Homo sapiens: one gene and its partners. The protein of the gene in region 4 purifies or fractionates together with the protein of the main gene of each other region. This does not show direct contact. Each region holds a gene or a part of one and is shown on either strand. Other genes may lie near its edges.

Region 1 (3,500 bases), on a different chromosome or scaffold from region 4:
CATGGCAGGCTTCCTATGGACCCAGGGCCATGCAGCCATTCGTTCCACGTTGAAACCCAGCCCACGTGTTGGAAATAGGATGAGGCCAACCACATGTGGCCTCGGGTGACACAATGGCCTCAGTGTTCTCACACCCCCATCCCAGGGACAGGAGGGCTGGGCTGTGAGGTGTTTGTGTTGCTGGTGCCAAGAGCCAAGGGTTTGGAATTTCCCCAGAGACTTCTTCCCATAATAATAGTCACAACGCCTTTGTACAGGGCTCCGTGTACCTGGCTTCATTCTAAGCACTTCCCCCGTGTATGAAGTACCGCCTCCCTCAGGCCCACGTTACAGATAAGTTACAGATAAGCAAACTGCGGCACAGAGGTTAAGTCTCACACACAGTGAGGGGGCAGCTGGATCCAGCCCAGGTCCCAGGGGCCTTTCTCCACAACAGCAGGCAGGCCTCTGCCACCTCAGGACCCAGAGCCATGTGCCTCCATGGAGAGGGCACTGGGGGCCACGTTTCTCCTACACCGTGTGAGAATAGCTTAATTAAAGGCCCCTGGGTCGCGCTCTCATGCATCCACAAAAAAATGCTGCTGCACGTGCTTGCTAGGGCTGCCGTAACCAAGCACCACGGACTGGGTGGCTCAGATAACAGAAAAGGGTTTTCTCCCAGTTCCGGAGGCCAGAAGTCTGAGATGAAGGGACGCGCGCTGCTGATGCCTTCGTTTCACCATGATGACCTCTGTCAAGGCCCTATCTCCAAATAAGGTCACGTCTTGAAGTACTGAAGGTTAGGACTTGAATCTATGAATTTGTTGGGGACACAGTTCAAGCCATCACAGCTGCTGAAGACAGTGCAGGTGGGAAATCCCTCGCTCTTCTGGCACCTCCACAGCCTGGCCTTCCCTTCACCATTTTCTGACAGGTTTTCTCCACAACAACCTATTTTCTGCTTATCCAAGGTTCACACCCCCTCATGGATAAAAAGAAAATTTCAGGAGCCACTCGTGACTGGCAAGTGTGTAAAGCCTAAATGCTGGAAGGCACCCAAAACCGCGTTCATGTGCTGTTCCTGGTGGCCCGGGACGCCACGGTGAAGAGAGGCAGGCCACTCTGACCAACACACGGGCTGACATTTGAGCCAATTCCATGTTTGGGGTAAAAGGCGAGCTGGTGTGATGCGTGACTAAGCTAAGAGGAACAATCTCTCGGCTATCTGCTAACCACAGAGGCCTTTTCACCCAACCAGCACCTCCAGGGGTTAGAGTGGAGGGCGAAAAAGAACTTTCATATTTAGCCAAATCAACCCAGAAGGGAAGTGAAGAGCCAAGAGATAGGAGGACACAGTCAGCCCATCGGGAAGCATCGCGAAACTGCGGGCAAGGCTCAGGGGAGCGGCAGCCACAGAGAGGAGCCGCAGGCCCAGCACCCAGGACCAGGAGCAGCCTCCCCCATAAGGAAACACAGCGTTGGGGTAGCTCTCACATCAGCAAACCCCAAACCCATCCTGGGCGCCCCAACTGCCTCAGATGGAAAGAGGGGAACACCACCCTCAGGGGGAGCGCCCACCCACAGCCTCTCCTTCATGACCCTGCTGTTCCCATGTGTCGTCCCCAGGGCAGGTCAAGGGCCTGACCCCAGCCTTCCAGGACTCTCCTCTTCTGCAGCTTCAAGAGGGGTTCAAGTCCCCTCTGTGAGGAAGGCTCCGGTCTCACATCTACTTTCAACCCAGCCAACAGCAGGCTCTCTGTTGAATACGAGGGGGCTGAGTGCTCAGGGCTGAGGGAATAGCCAGTGCAAAGGCCCTGGGGCAGGGCAGGACCACGTCAAGAACAGTGTGAAGATGGCAAGCCAGCAGGCAGGGGCTTCCATGAACCCCCGATTGCAGGCCACTGCATCCCGCAGAAGCGCACGTGACAGGCGGTGCAGGGCGACCAGGGCCACTTGGAGAAGGCAACAAGGGAACAAGTGTGGGGGTTGACCCTCCAGCCACAGAGAACAGCCAATTCAGAGACTCAGTGGCAGGAACAAATGTGCTGGGCCCGAGGACAGCAAGCAAGCTGTGTAGCCAGAATCACCGGAGCCACCGGCAGCCTGACAGCTTGGGAGACTTCAGCCACGACAAGAAGCGGGAAAGAGAGCTTTTCAGGTGTCATGTGGGAATGTGCATGGCCATTTCCTCTGCTGTCCCTGGGAGGCCACCGCCCATCAAAGGTGATGCTGCGACTGAGCCGGATGCATGAGGACACGTCTGCAGCCTCCATGTCCTGCCCTGTAGTTCACACTACCCTCCCACGCCAGGCTTCTTTGATCACCAAGGGCCCACTCTGGCACCTAGGACAACATTGCTGCTAAAGAGGTTAGCTCCTCAGTCCAACTCACCTGGTCACCCTGGCCACTCCCCATCTGGCCTCCAGCCTCGCCTCCTAGCCTCCTTGCTGGCTGCCCTGCTTTCTTTCTCACCCACCTCTGACTCTGCTCCTGACAGCAGCCAGTCCTTTTAACCCAGTCTCAACATGTCACTCCCCGACACAGGAGCATCCAGTGGCTTTCCATCACACTGAGGACAATCCAGGGTTGACACCACAACTGCCAGTTCCAGGATGGCCTGCCCCCTGCGCCCCTCTGAGCACCTGTCCCCACCCCTACTCTCTGGGTAGCTCTACTTTGCACACGCCGATCTCCCTGCTTTCCGCAAACGCTTCCTGTCCTGCCCTGCCTCAGGGCCTTTGCACTGGCTGTTCCCTCAGCCCTGAGCACTCAGCCCACCGTGCTCAAGTGGCTCTCTCTCCATTCGGATCTCTGCTCAAGTGCGACCCCTCAGAGAGGCCTTCTTGCCCTCCCTGACCAGCGTTTGGAGTCCAGTGCTGTGCATCCTTTGCTGTCCATCCTTTCACTCAACACACAGCCTATCCAACAGCTACTTCCTCTTCCCTCAGCTCAAATCAGTCCCGTGAGGGCAGGAACCTTGTCCATTTGGTCCTAACATGTATCCCACTGCCTAGACTTGTAGGACTCAACCAACTGGGGGCAATACTGACCCCCAGGGGACATTTGGCCATGTCTAGAGACATTTTTTGTTATTACAACTGGGAGATGGGGTGCCACTGGCATCTAGTGGATGGTGGCCAGGGATGCGGCTCAATACCCTACATTGCCCAGAACAGCCCCCCATAAAAATGAATCATCTGGACCCTAACGTCCACAGTGTCAAGGTTGAGAAACCCTGGCCTAGACGCACAGACCCAAGGAATATTTGCTGAATGAAGAAGTAATTAAGGGGCCGGGAGCAGTGGCTCAAGCCTATAATCCCAGCACTTTGGGAGGCCGAGGCGGGCACATCCCCTGAGGTCAGGAGTTCGAGACCAGCCTGGATAACATGGTGAAACTCGTCTCTACTAAAAATACAAAAATTAGCCAGGCGTGGTGGTGCGTGCCTGTAATCCCAGCTACAAGGAGGCTGAGGCAGGAGAATCACTTGAACCTGGGAGATGAAGGTTGCAGTGAGCCGA
Region 2 (3,069 bases), on a different chromosome or scaffold from region 4:
TGCCCGCCCAGCGCTGACTTCATTGGCTGCCTCCCCAGTCCCGCCCCCAGGGGGGCCCTGCTGATGTTCGTAGCCAATCCGCAGGCGCGGTGGCAGCTGCGGGTCGCGGGTCGCGGGTCGCGAGTCGCCGGTCGCCGGTCGCGGCGGAGCCTGGGCGCTGAGGTACCGGGGCCTGGACGAGGGGGCCGCGGTCTGGCTAGGGAGCCGCGCGGGCTCATGGCGGTACGGCGACCTGGCCTCGCTCGAGGGTTCGCGGGCGGGCCGCCCCTCCCCGGGCTCCTAGGGGGACGCTCCAGCTGGAGGGGCGGTGACCGCGACTGTCGTGGGCTGGCCCCAGGTGGCTAGGGTTGGGGGTCAGAGGTCAGAGGTTCTGCCCTCTGGAATGTTAGGGCCCCGCCCGTGGAGCCGTGGAGCCCTGGGGCCGGGCCGCTCCCCATTTTCCTGTCAGCTCTTGTTGAGGTGCCCCATCTTTTCGCAGAAGGGACTTGGAGGGAAGCGGGCCTGGAGCTGCTGCCGCCGCCCCTGAGCTCGGACGCGAAGGCTGGCCCCGTCCCCGGGCTGCCGCCGTGGTCCTGCAGGTGACCCTCAACCCCCCGAGGACCGCCGGCCGCCTCCCGCCTCCGGGCAGGCTCAGGAGCGCGCGGAGCGGGGTGTGGGCCTGTGACCCTCGAAGGCGTGGGCGGGGAGTAGGGGGTCGAGCTGGGGCCGCAGGCTGTCCCCGTACGGGCTGCTCCCCTGTGGCTCCGAAGCCACCTTTTTCTGAAGTTGTCAGCCCGCGTGTTTGAGATTTCGTTTCTGGAATCTCACGCGAACAATCTGGAGAGAGGAACAGGGGTCTTGCGGCTTTGGCTGTTGACTCAAGGGGAAAATAAAAACCAGACAATGGGGATGTAATGAATGCAAAGTGACCCGTGAGCAAACTGGACGCTTTTCTCCGGCTGACAGGCATGAGTTCTCCCCGTAGCTTGCCCCACATACTGTGAGTTAAACTGTGTCAAAGTAAGAGCAGTTTAGCCCCACAGTTCTGAGCAAGAGTCCTTAGCGCTGACCTTCTTAGTGAAGATACTTTGCAATGTGTAAAATATTGAATACAAAATTATTGTGCAAAGCTTCTGAGTTGAAGATTCTGAGTGCGCGGAGGCTGGCGGCAGCCCTTACTTGCCATTGCAAGGATCTCAACTTACTACTCTGAGAGCAAAAGTAGTTGTTTCTTTACAGATGTGGGTTTAGGGGAGACAGCTATGGATGAGGAACAGGGGCGGGGTTCGTTTTCTGCACAAAACGTATGCGATTAGAAAAAACAAAGGGTTTTTATTCTGCCTATCTTCTTCCATCTCAGCCAGCATAAGCACATTCTTTTTTTTCTGTTGATGATGTATGCTGAGTATTTGCAGCGATTAGGAAAAGGAATACTCTCTAACAAGACACTTCTCTTTAAACGAGGCGGTGGAGGGATGATTATGTCTTCTGTGGAATTAACCCTCCGGCTTGATTTTCAGTGAAGAAAATGAGGCACGAGGAATTGTTAACCAAGACCTTCCAAGGCCCAGCTGTTGTGTGTGGGACTCCGACCAGCCACGTATACATGTTTAAGAATGGCAGTGGGGACTCGGGGGACTCTTCTGAAGAAGAGTCTCACCGTGTGGTTTTGCGGCCCCGGGGCAAGGAGCGCCACAAGAGCGGTGTCCACCAGCCTCCCCAGGCGGGAGCAGGTGACGTGGTGCTGCTGCAGCGGGAGCTGGCCCAGGAGGACAGCCTCAACAAGCTGGCGCTGCAGTATGGCTGCAAAGTAAGACACCCCTCAGGGGCCCTGCCCCGCTCCGTTTCAAGGAACACGGGGAACTCACTGCAGGGTGGGTGCCCTTGCCGCCCTTCTTAACCCTGCCAGGCCGTCAGGAGAGGCCTGCTGTAGCAGCCAAGGACTCCCCTATTTAGCCAGAATTGGAATGCAGGTGGGAGTACCTTTAGTTCCCAACCCTGGCCCCCAAAGAGGGAGGGTTAGCGCATTTCTTTCTCTGCAGGGAACTTCTCCTTTTCCTGTTTTCTCCACACTGAAATTCTGAAACCTTTTTTCTTCTTTCGAGCACATTTTATTTTAGACCTAATGGGGCTGGAGATACCAGGCAGAATTTAATTCCGGATTTCTATGGTATGCTTGCTTTTCTCGCTGCTCTTATTTTTCTGAACCTTTCTTGGTGGTAGCTTACTTGACTTTTGGTAAAGTTTTACCTTCTCTCGTTTAGAACTGCATGGTCTTTTGTATGCTGTGTATCTATATAACCCTGTTTTTCTCTAATTATGTTTTCAGCATTCAGAGTGATTAACAATGGCAAAGTAAGTAGGAAAGTATTTCTAGAATTGCTGCATTTTCTCCTAGATTGCAACTGTTTCACTTTGCTAACACTGTGCTACAGATTTGTATGGCCTTCTCTAGGGGTATATAAGCTACTTAATTTAAGAAATCTCTTTCTCCTACAAGTGTCTTATCTAACAAGGTCCAAATGTCTGAAACATGTTGTGTGGGGTGTTGCGGTCTTTCAGGGAAATAAACAGGTTGGTCTCCGGGGACACATAGTGGTCTTTAAATTGTACTGACAATTATATTTGGCTCCGATAAGCAGCTTCTGCAGGCATACTGTGTGGCTTACAGAACATGGGCTGAAAAATGAAGCCTGTCCTACAAAGACCGGAATAGATGGAGTAGGCTTCTTGGTATGGTGATGTCTAAATCCGTAAAGAATATATAAAGCCTTTGATAAGTGATCAGTTTTCCTATTTGAAGTAAATAAATTTGCTCTTAATTTATTGAAGGCAGAGACAGAAAGATCTCAAGGGTCTCATGCATTAGATTCAGGACATAGTGAATTAAAAATGTCCCCTACCCCAAATCAGTTACAATAACAGCAGTTGCTGAATAATAATGGAAATGATTGATTTGATTGAGATCTGTTGGCTGTATTCACTTTCTAGTTTAAGTGGACTTAAGTGTTAAAAGTTTGGAGTTCATCTCTGATGCTTTTGGAAAGTTTTCAAACATTAGTTTGAGGGAGGGGTTACCCTTTGACTTAC
Region 3 (3,500 bases), on a different chromosome or scaffold from region 4:
CAGACGTCGTAGCTCGCCAAGTTCTGCGGGTGGGAGCTGCGTCAACCTATCTGGCCCAGCCCTTCCTTTGGGGGGCCTGGGGGAGGATATGGCCCCGGATAGGCACTGACAGCAGGGATGGGACCTGGGGCCCAGGGTGTTGGCAGGACGCACCTTGGCCTCGATGCCGATCTTCATGATGGTGCCCGAGATGGTGAGCACATCGCTGGTGACGAGCAGGATGTACCAGCCATTGACAAATTCCAGCCGCTCCCACAGGCTGATGACCCGTCCCCGCTGCCGCCACATGAACCCCACAAACTCCTGCAGAAGGCAGGCGGGGTGAGGGCCTGACCAGGCACAGGACCCTCAAAGCCCTGGCTTTTATCGCCCCAGGGCCAGGCGGGGAGGACACCAGCACACATGACGCAGAAGCCTCACGTTCTGCAGCAGGAAGCCTCGAAGGAGTGAGCGGGCGCAGAGGAGGAAGGACAGGGAGCAGGTGAGGATGACCACCACGTCAAACAGGAGCCGGAAGCTGTTGTCTCCTGCGGGGAGGGCAGAGCGGGTAGGGCCAAGGATGGCATGGAGCCTTGGGAGGCTAGCATTGGTGCCAGGCCAGGCTGGAGACCTAGGGGGCTGCACGGCTGGTTTTGGTTGGTCAGTGGGCTCAGGGCTTGCTTGGGGTGAGTCAAGAACCCCGGTCAGTGCTGGTCTGGGGCTTGGGGGATCTCAGCACAGGACGGGGTCCCTGGTCTGTGCTGATCTGAGGCTCAGCGGATTCCTGGGGAGGTCACGGCCCCCAGGCAGCGCTGATCTGGGGCTTGGGGAATCCCAGGACAGGCCAGGGCCCCTGGTCAGTGCTGGTCTGGGGCTCAGGGGCTCACCGTGCTGGAAGACACTGGGGTGCTTACACTCCTGGATGTGGGCCTGGGTCTCCAGGCTGATGGGGATCCGCCCACTGTGTGCTTTGTTGTCAAACGTGATCTGTGGGGGCCAGTTGGGGGCAGAGTAAACCTTGGCAGCCCCAAGCCCCAAGGTCCACATGACAGGTGGCCTGACAGACCCCGGGCTCCCTCCCTCATCACCCGCACGCTTGCCCTTGGCCAGTGCTCCCAAGACACTCCCTGACCAGGTCCCTGCCCTGGAACTCAGGAGCCCTGTGGGTTCCCGGGGGGCCTCACCAGGACGCTGAAGGTATAGCAGTCCGGGATCTCATTATTGATGAGGCTCTGGAGGTTAATGGTCTTCAGCCGGAAGTGGATGGTGACATTGACCAGCCTAGGCAGGAGGCTCGGGTGAGGGTCAGGGGCGTCTTCGGGTCCCTTCCGGCCCCAAGTGCCAGCGTCCCCTGCCACGTGCTGACTCTGCAGCTGGCAGGGGAAGTGCTCACCCAGCAGGCACCAGCGCGGGCGGGGGGGCCCTGTCCCCACCTTAGGGAAGTAGTTGCTGGGGTGAGAGTGCCTAGTGTGCTGCCTCCCCCACCCTGGGCCCCCCTCGAGTGAGCAGGCAGTACTTGTGGAATTTGAGCGTGAGGTTCTTGTAACTGGAGCTGCTTTCCAAGAGGGTGAGATCGTCGCTGGGGGGCGGAGGGGGCCGCTCGGGGGGATCCACCTGGATGCAGTCTAAGGACAGGGAGTCAGGGAAGGGCCTCAGGGGGCCGGGGAGGCCAGGCTGGTCTCCCCAGAGTCCCCAGTGGCCTTCTTCCCTGTGCTTCCCCAGGGTTGGGTCATTCCTACAGGCCTGGCACTCTCTGGGCCTGCGGATGTTTTACTGAATGAGCCATATTAAAATATAACATCTGGTGCTTTCTACGTGGCAAGAGTCACACTCACACTAAGCATACTTGTTTTTTTTTTTTTTTTTTTTTTTTGAGACAGGGTCTCACTCTGTCACCCAGGGTGGAGTGCAGCAGCGTGGTCATAGCTTACTGCAGCCTCAACCTCCCGGACTCAAGCGATCCTCCTGCCTCAGCCTCCTGAGTAGCTGGGACCACAGGGGCACGCCACCACGCCCAGCTAATTTGTTTGTGCGTAGAGACAAGGTCTTCCTACGTGGCCCAGGCTGGTCTCAAACTTCTGGCCTCAAGCAATCCTTCCTCCTCAGCCTCCCAAAGTGCTGGTATTATAGGCGTGAGCCACCGTGCCCAGCCACAGCTGTTGATTTTAATCCCAGCAGCTCAGGCTCCCAACAGTGAAGCCTCGTCCTGCCCACTCACCAGTAACCACCATCGGATCAATGTCAAATGTGTCGTTGGCCGGGTCCACGTGGCCTCGGTGGTAGTACCGCTGGCAGAGAGCAAGCCCTGAGCCATTGGTCCAAGGGTCACCCCCACCACGGACATACGCATACCGGCCCAGTGACACGTCAGGCAACGCCAGGTACTGTGGGCAGAGAAGGGGAGGGCCTGTGAGTCCGGCCCGCTCTCTGCAGCCCACCCACCTGCACCTGCCCGCCCACCAGCACCTGCCCGCCCAACTGCACCTGCCCGCCCACCTGCACCTGCCTGCCCACCAGCACCTGCCCGCCCACCAGCACCTGGTCCACAGCATGGAAGATGGCCTGGTACAGCTGCTCCCGCGTGTAGGCTGCGAAGGTGTCATCCGCTCCGTCCGAGTAGCCCAGCAGGAAGAGGTGTCGGAAGGCGATGGTGTTCTCTTCCCGGAATGTCACAGCCAGCTGATTACTGAGCCCAAACAGGATGAGCTGGGGAGAGGGTAGTAGAGGTTGGCATGGCTAGGATGGGGGTTGGGGTGTATCTCCCTCAGGGCACAGGCCCTGGAAGAGGACAGGGAGGGCCCTGCAGATGTCCACTGGGGTGGGGCAGGGCCCTGCTAACTTGGGCCACAAACACGGATTTCACTTGTGCATTTCTTTGCTTTGATTAATTTCACCCCACCTCCTGGCATAAGCTCCATGCCACGCCCACCACTGTGTCCTCCCCCGTACAACACAGGGTGGGGACTCATCTATCTCACTGCAGGGACTAACGTTCATTAAATGTTTACTGGATGTCCGATTCTGTGTTAAACCCAAACTTTCAGGGTAAGTACCATGACTGGGTCCCTTTTCTTTTCTTTTTTGAGACAGAGTCTCACTCTGTTGCCCAAGTTGGAGTGCCATGGTATGATCTCAGCTCACTACAACCTCCACCCCCTGGGTTCAAGCAATTCTCCTGTCTCAGCCTCCTGAGTAGCTGAGTTACAGGTACCTGCCACCAAACCCAGCTAATTTTTGTATTTTTAGTAGAGACGGGGTTTTGCAATGTTGGCCAGGCTGGTCTCAAACTCCTGGCCTCAAATGATCCACCCAACTCAGCCTCCCAAAGTGCTGGCATTACAGGCATGAGCCACCATGCCTGGACAATTGGGTCCCTTTTCAGAGGGAAAATTAGAGGCATGGTGACATGCTAAAGTCAGCCCAAAACATGAAGTAAGCACTTAGGGCAGTGGCTGGGTCTGATTCATCTTGGGGTTCCCAGAGCCCAGCACAGGGTCTGGCATGGGGGAGGGAGAACTATC
Region 4 (3,500 bases):
TTTGTCAATCTTAGTTAAATTATAGGCACGAGCATCAGATTTTATTACTTTTGTTGTTTTTTGTTAATAAAATTATATGACATAAATTTATCCAAAAATCATATAGAAGTCCAGATTTATTTGTAGACGTCTGAGCTAAGAGAGAGGCAGTTATTCTTCTGTAAGTCTTTTTGCTAGGTCTTGTTATGAAGTCTTCACTCAGACTCTATATATTGTTTGTTGATTTTATTTTCTAGTTTCACAATGCAGATAATGGCAATTTATCTTTAGAGTCTTAATCCTATAACTGATTACATTGATAGTAGTAATAGTAATAGAAGCAGCAGCAGCAATAACAATATGTTAAGTTTTTAAATAATCCTACCTTATCAGATAGATAATTATATCTCCACTTTATAGAAGAGTAAACTGAGGTTCATGAAGGCTAAATAAATTATTCCAATCATGTAGCTAAATATAAAACCTGTGTTTTAAAAACAGTGTTCTATTCTACATCATTCTCCAAAATATGCTATAATTGTTAATTATTCTTAGTACTAAAACTCATTAGAAAGGCAGCTTTATATATTTTCAAATATAATTTTTAATGATAGTGAACTATTTGCTAAGGAATATGCCATATTTTTACATCTAACTTTCTTTGAATGCCCCTTTTCCTGTTGTTTACAGAAAGTATCACCTTGGGTAGGCTTGCGCAAGATCAATATATCCTATTGGGGATGGGAAGACATGTCTCCTTTTACAAACACAACACTACAGTGGCTTCCTGGCGAACCCAATGATTCTGGGTTTTGTGCATATCTGGAAAGGGCTGCAGTGGCAGGCTTAAAAGCTAATCCTTGTACATCTATGGCAAATGGCCTTGTCTGTGAAAAACCTGTTGGTAAGTAGTCCAGTAAATTAGCATTCCTTTAAAAGTATGTTTCCCACCCATCTTCTCATTCCTTCCTTCTAGGGTGTAGTCTTATTCTATGATATTTATGTAAATTTTATTTTTATACACATTCTTCCCCACTTACTATTAGTGATCTCAGCATTAACTTGTGAAAATAACATAATATTATTATTTTATGCAAACTTTGTTGGTTCAAATAGTGAGATTGTGGTTGTAGTTACTTATAATATGACAATAATCTATTCTTAATTCATTAATGTCTTTTACTTTTATCATGATAGTGTTTGGGAAGAAGATTTGCTTTTAAGATTAATGGCTAATTGGGACTCCTTTTACTCTTGTAGACATATTTCAGTTATCAAGTAAAAAGAAACATTTTTGTTACATCTTCTGAAATGGATTTTTGTTAAGTAAGAAAGGAATATTGAATTCTTTTCTTTTAAATCTTATATTTTTATCATGGTAAAATGTACTTAAAATTTACCATTTTAACCATTGTAAATGTATTTTAATGCCAATTCAATGGCATTAAATACTTTGACACTGTTGTGCAAACATCATCACCATTTAGCTCCAGAACTTTTTCATTTTGCAAAACTAAAAATCTGTACCCATTAAACAATAACTCTCCATTTCCTCCACCCCACCCCCTACAGTCCCTAGCAACTACTGTTCTACTTTCTGTCTCTATGAATTTACTACTTCAGGTACCTCATATGGTGAAATCATACAGTATATGTGCTTTGTGACTGGCTTATTCCCTTAGCATAATGTCTTTAGGGTTTAACCAAGTTGTAGGATATATGAGAATTTCCTTCCTTTTTAAGGTTGACCAATATTACATTATATGTAAATACTACATTTTGTTCATCCATTCATTTATCAATGGATACTTGCGTTGCTTCTACCTTTTTGCTATTGTGAGTAATGCTGCTATGAATGTGGGTGTATGAATAACTGTTCAGCTTCTTGCTTTCACTTCTTTGGGGTATATATATATAGCCAGAAGCAGAATTACAAAATAATGTGGCAATTCTGTTTTTCACATTCCCACCAGCAGTGCACAAAGGTTTCAATTTCTCTCCATCCTTGCCAATATTTATTTCCTATTATTTTTAAATAATGGCCATCTTAAAGGCTGTGATAAATATTGTATCTTGTGTAATATTTTATGATAAGCTGTATTTTTATTCTTTGTTTATATCAAAGACATGTTCACTTACAGGACATTTACTTTGTAAGATGTGGAATGCTATGGAAAACGTGGCTGGGAAAAAATTGTGGCTGGGAAAATAAACAGTGCTGGTATACAAACTAGGTCATAGATTACATTACTGCTTATAATACTTAAAATTATACAACTTTATATACTTTGTAAAGAATTACAAATTTCAAAGGAGTTATACATTTTCAAATTTAATAAAAATTTTAAGAAGTATTGATATATCATCTTTGTTTTTATCTACCTCATCATATTATAATGCCACAGTTGGCTTAATTGAAACATGCCCTGAACAGCAAAGCAAAGAAAACCCATACAATTGTGTTAACATGAAGTTAAAAATGAAATTATTGTATTTGTTTATTTATTCCAGTTAGTCCAAATCAAAATGCGAGGCCGTGCAAAAAGCCATGCTCTCTGAGGACATCATGTTCCAACTGTACAAGCAATGGCATGGAGTGTATGTGGTGCAGCAGTACGAAACGATGTGTTGACTCTAATGCCTATATCATCTCTTTTCCATATGGACAATGTCTAGAGTGGCAAACTGCCACCTGCTCCCGTAAGTATTTATCTAGAGTGACTTTTCACTTGACAGCAACGTAAATTTACTTTTCTGTGATGTAAAGAAGAATTAAATATTTGAAGAAGTTTCAAAAAATGAGAAAAAATATTGTTACGGCTACTTTTGAAACCAACTGGTACTGTTAACCTCTGATTTTTATTATATCATCATTTTGCATGCCACTAAGTATCTTACCCTAAATATTAACATATTGCCACATATGTACAGCCTCTTTTCCCTGAACTGTGTGTATGTTGCAGACAGTATAACACTTCATGAGAGTGTTCACCTCAAACATCACAGATTGCTTTGGTGAGCCTTTTTAGTATCTTTTAATCTAGTGCAATTCCCATATCTTTTCCTTATATGACTTTGATATTTTTGAATAACCTATACCAATTGTTTTGGAGGTTTCTCAATTTGGATTTGTCTAATTTTTCCCTCATGATTAGATTCAGGAAAGCATTTTGGGGCAAGAATATTTTATCAATGTTGGTATATCTGCTACAAGTATAGAATGCACAGTCTTGAAATCACATAGAGTTATGTCAGCAGGGCAGTACTGGGCTTGCTATGAGTTATACTTCAGGAGAAAGATTTTGCCCCTTGCTGATCTCTCATGTTTTCTAAGGACTATAGGATAAGGCTGCACCTGAATGAATATTTAATACTGGGTACTATGTGGTGAGAGTGGCCTTGCTTACAAACACAAATGGCGTCAGAATACAGCTGCCAAGGGAATTGCATAATGCTACTGGGAGCACTTGTTAGCCTTGTAGGAACTTAAGACCGTGTGAAACTCTTTCTGCTTGGGAGAA

Evidence for each region. Proteins that work in one complex are often made in the same cells at the same time.
Region 1: the proteins of ATRNL1 (region 4) and CLCN4 fractionate together in Homo sapiens (co-fractionation; one large-scale study listed by BioGRID). This does not show direct contact.
Region 2: the proteins of ATRNL1 (region 4) and LYSMD4 fractionate together in Homo sapiens (co-fractionation; one large-scale study listed by BioGRID). This does not show direct contact.
Region 3: the proteins of ATRNL1 (region 4) and MCOLN1 fractionate together in Homo sapiens (co-fractionation; one large-scale study listed by BioGRID). This does not show direct contact.

Annotation. Positions count from the first base shown.
Region 1 is NC_000023.11:10,163,475-10,166,974, reverse strand, and holds part of CLCN4 (H(+)/Cl(-) exchange transporter 4), read right to left. Parts: intron 1-3,500. UniProt on the Homo sapiens protein: Strongly outwardly rectifying, electrogenic H(+)/Cl(-)exchanger which mediates the exchange of chloride ions against protons.
Region 2 is NC_000015.10:99,730,438-99,733,506, reverse strand, and holds the start of LYSMD4 (lysM and putative peptidoglycan-binding domain-containing protein 4), read left to right. Parts: upstream 1-1,499; 5' UTR 1,500-1,507; coding exon 1,508-1,789; exon of another isoform or gene 1,790-2,084; coding exon of another isoform or gene 2,085-2,149; exon of another isoform or gene 2,150-2,298; coding exon of another isoform or gene 2,299-2,334; exon of another isoform or gene 2,335-2,712; intron 2,713-3,069.
Region 3 is NC_000019.10:7,525,624-7,529,123, reverse strand, and holds part of MCOLN1 (mucolipin-1), read right to left. Parts: intron 2,686-3,500; coding exon 2,518-2,685; intron 2,364-2,517; coding exon 2,198-2,363; intron 1,605-2,197; coding exon 1,496-1,604; intron 1,261-1,495; coding exon 1,164-1,260; intron 967-1,163; coding exon 867-966; intron 528-866; coding exon 421-527; intron 304-420; coding exon 154-303; intron 24-153; coding exon 1-23. UniProt on the Homo sapiens protein: Nonselective cation channel probably playing a role in the regulation of membrane trafficking events and of metal homeostasis. Acts as a Ca(2+)-permeable cation channel with inwardly rectifying activity.
Region 4 is NC_000010.11:115,299,365-115,302,864, forward strand, and holds part of ATRNL1 (attractin-like protein 1 isoform 1 precursor), read left to right. Parts: intron 1-669; coding exon 670-883; intron 884-2,490; coding exon 2,491-2,679; intron 2,680-3,500. UniProt on the Homo sapiens protein: May play a role in melanocortin signaling pathways that regulate energy homeostasis.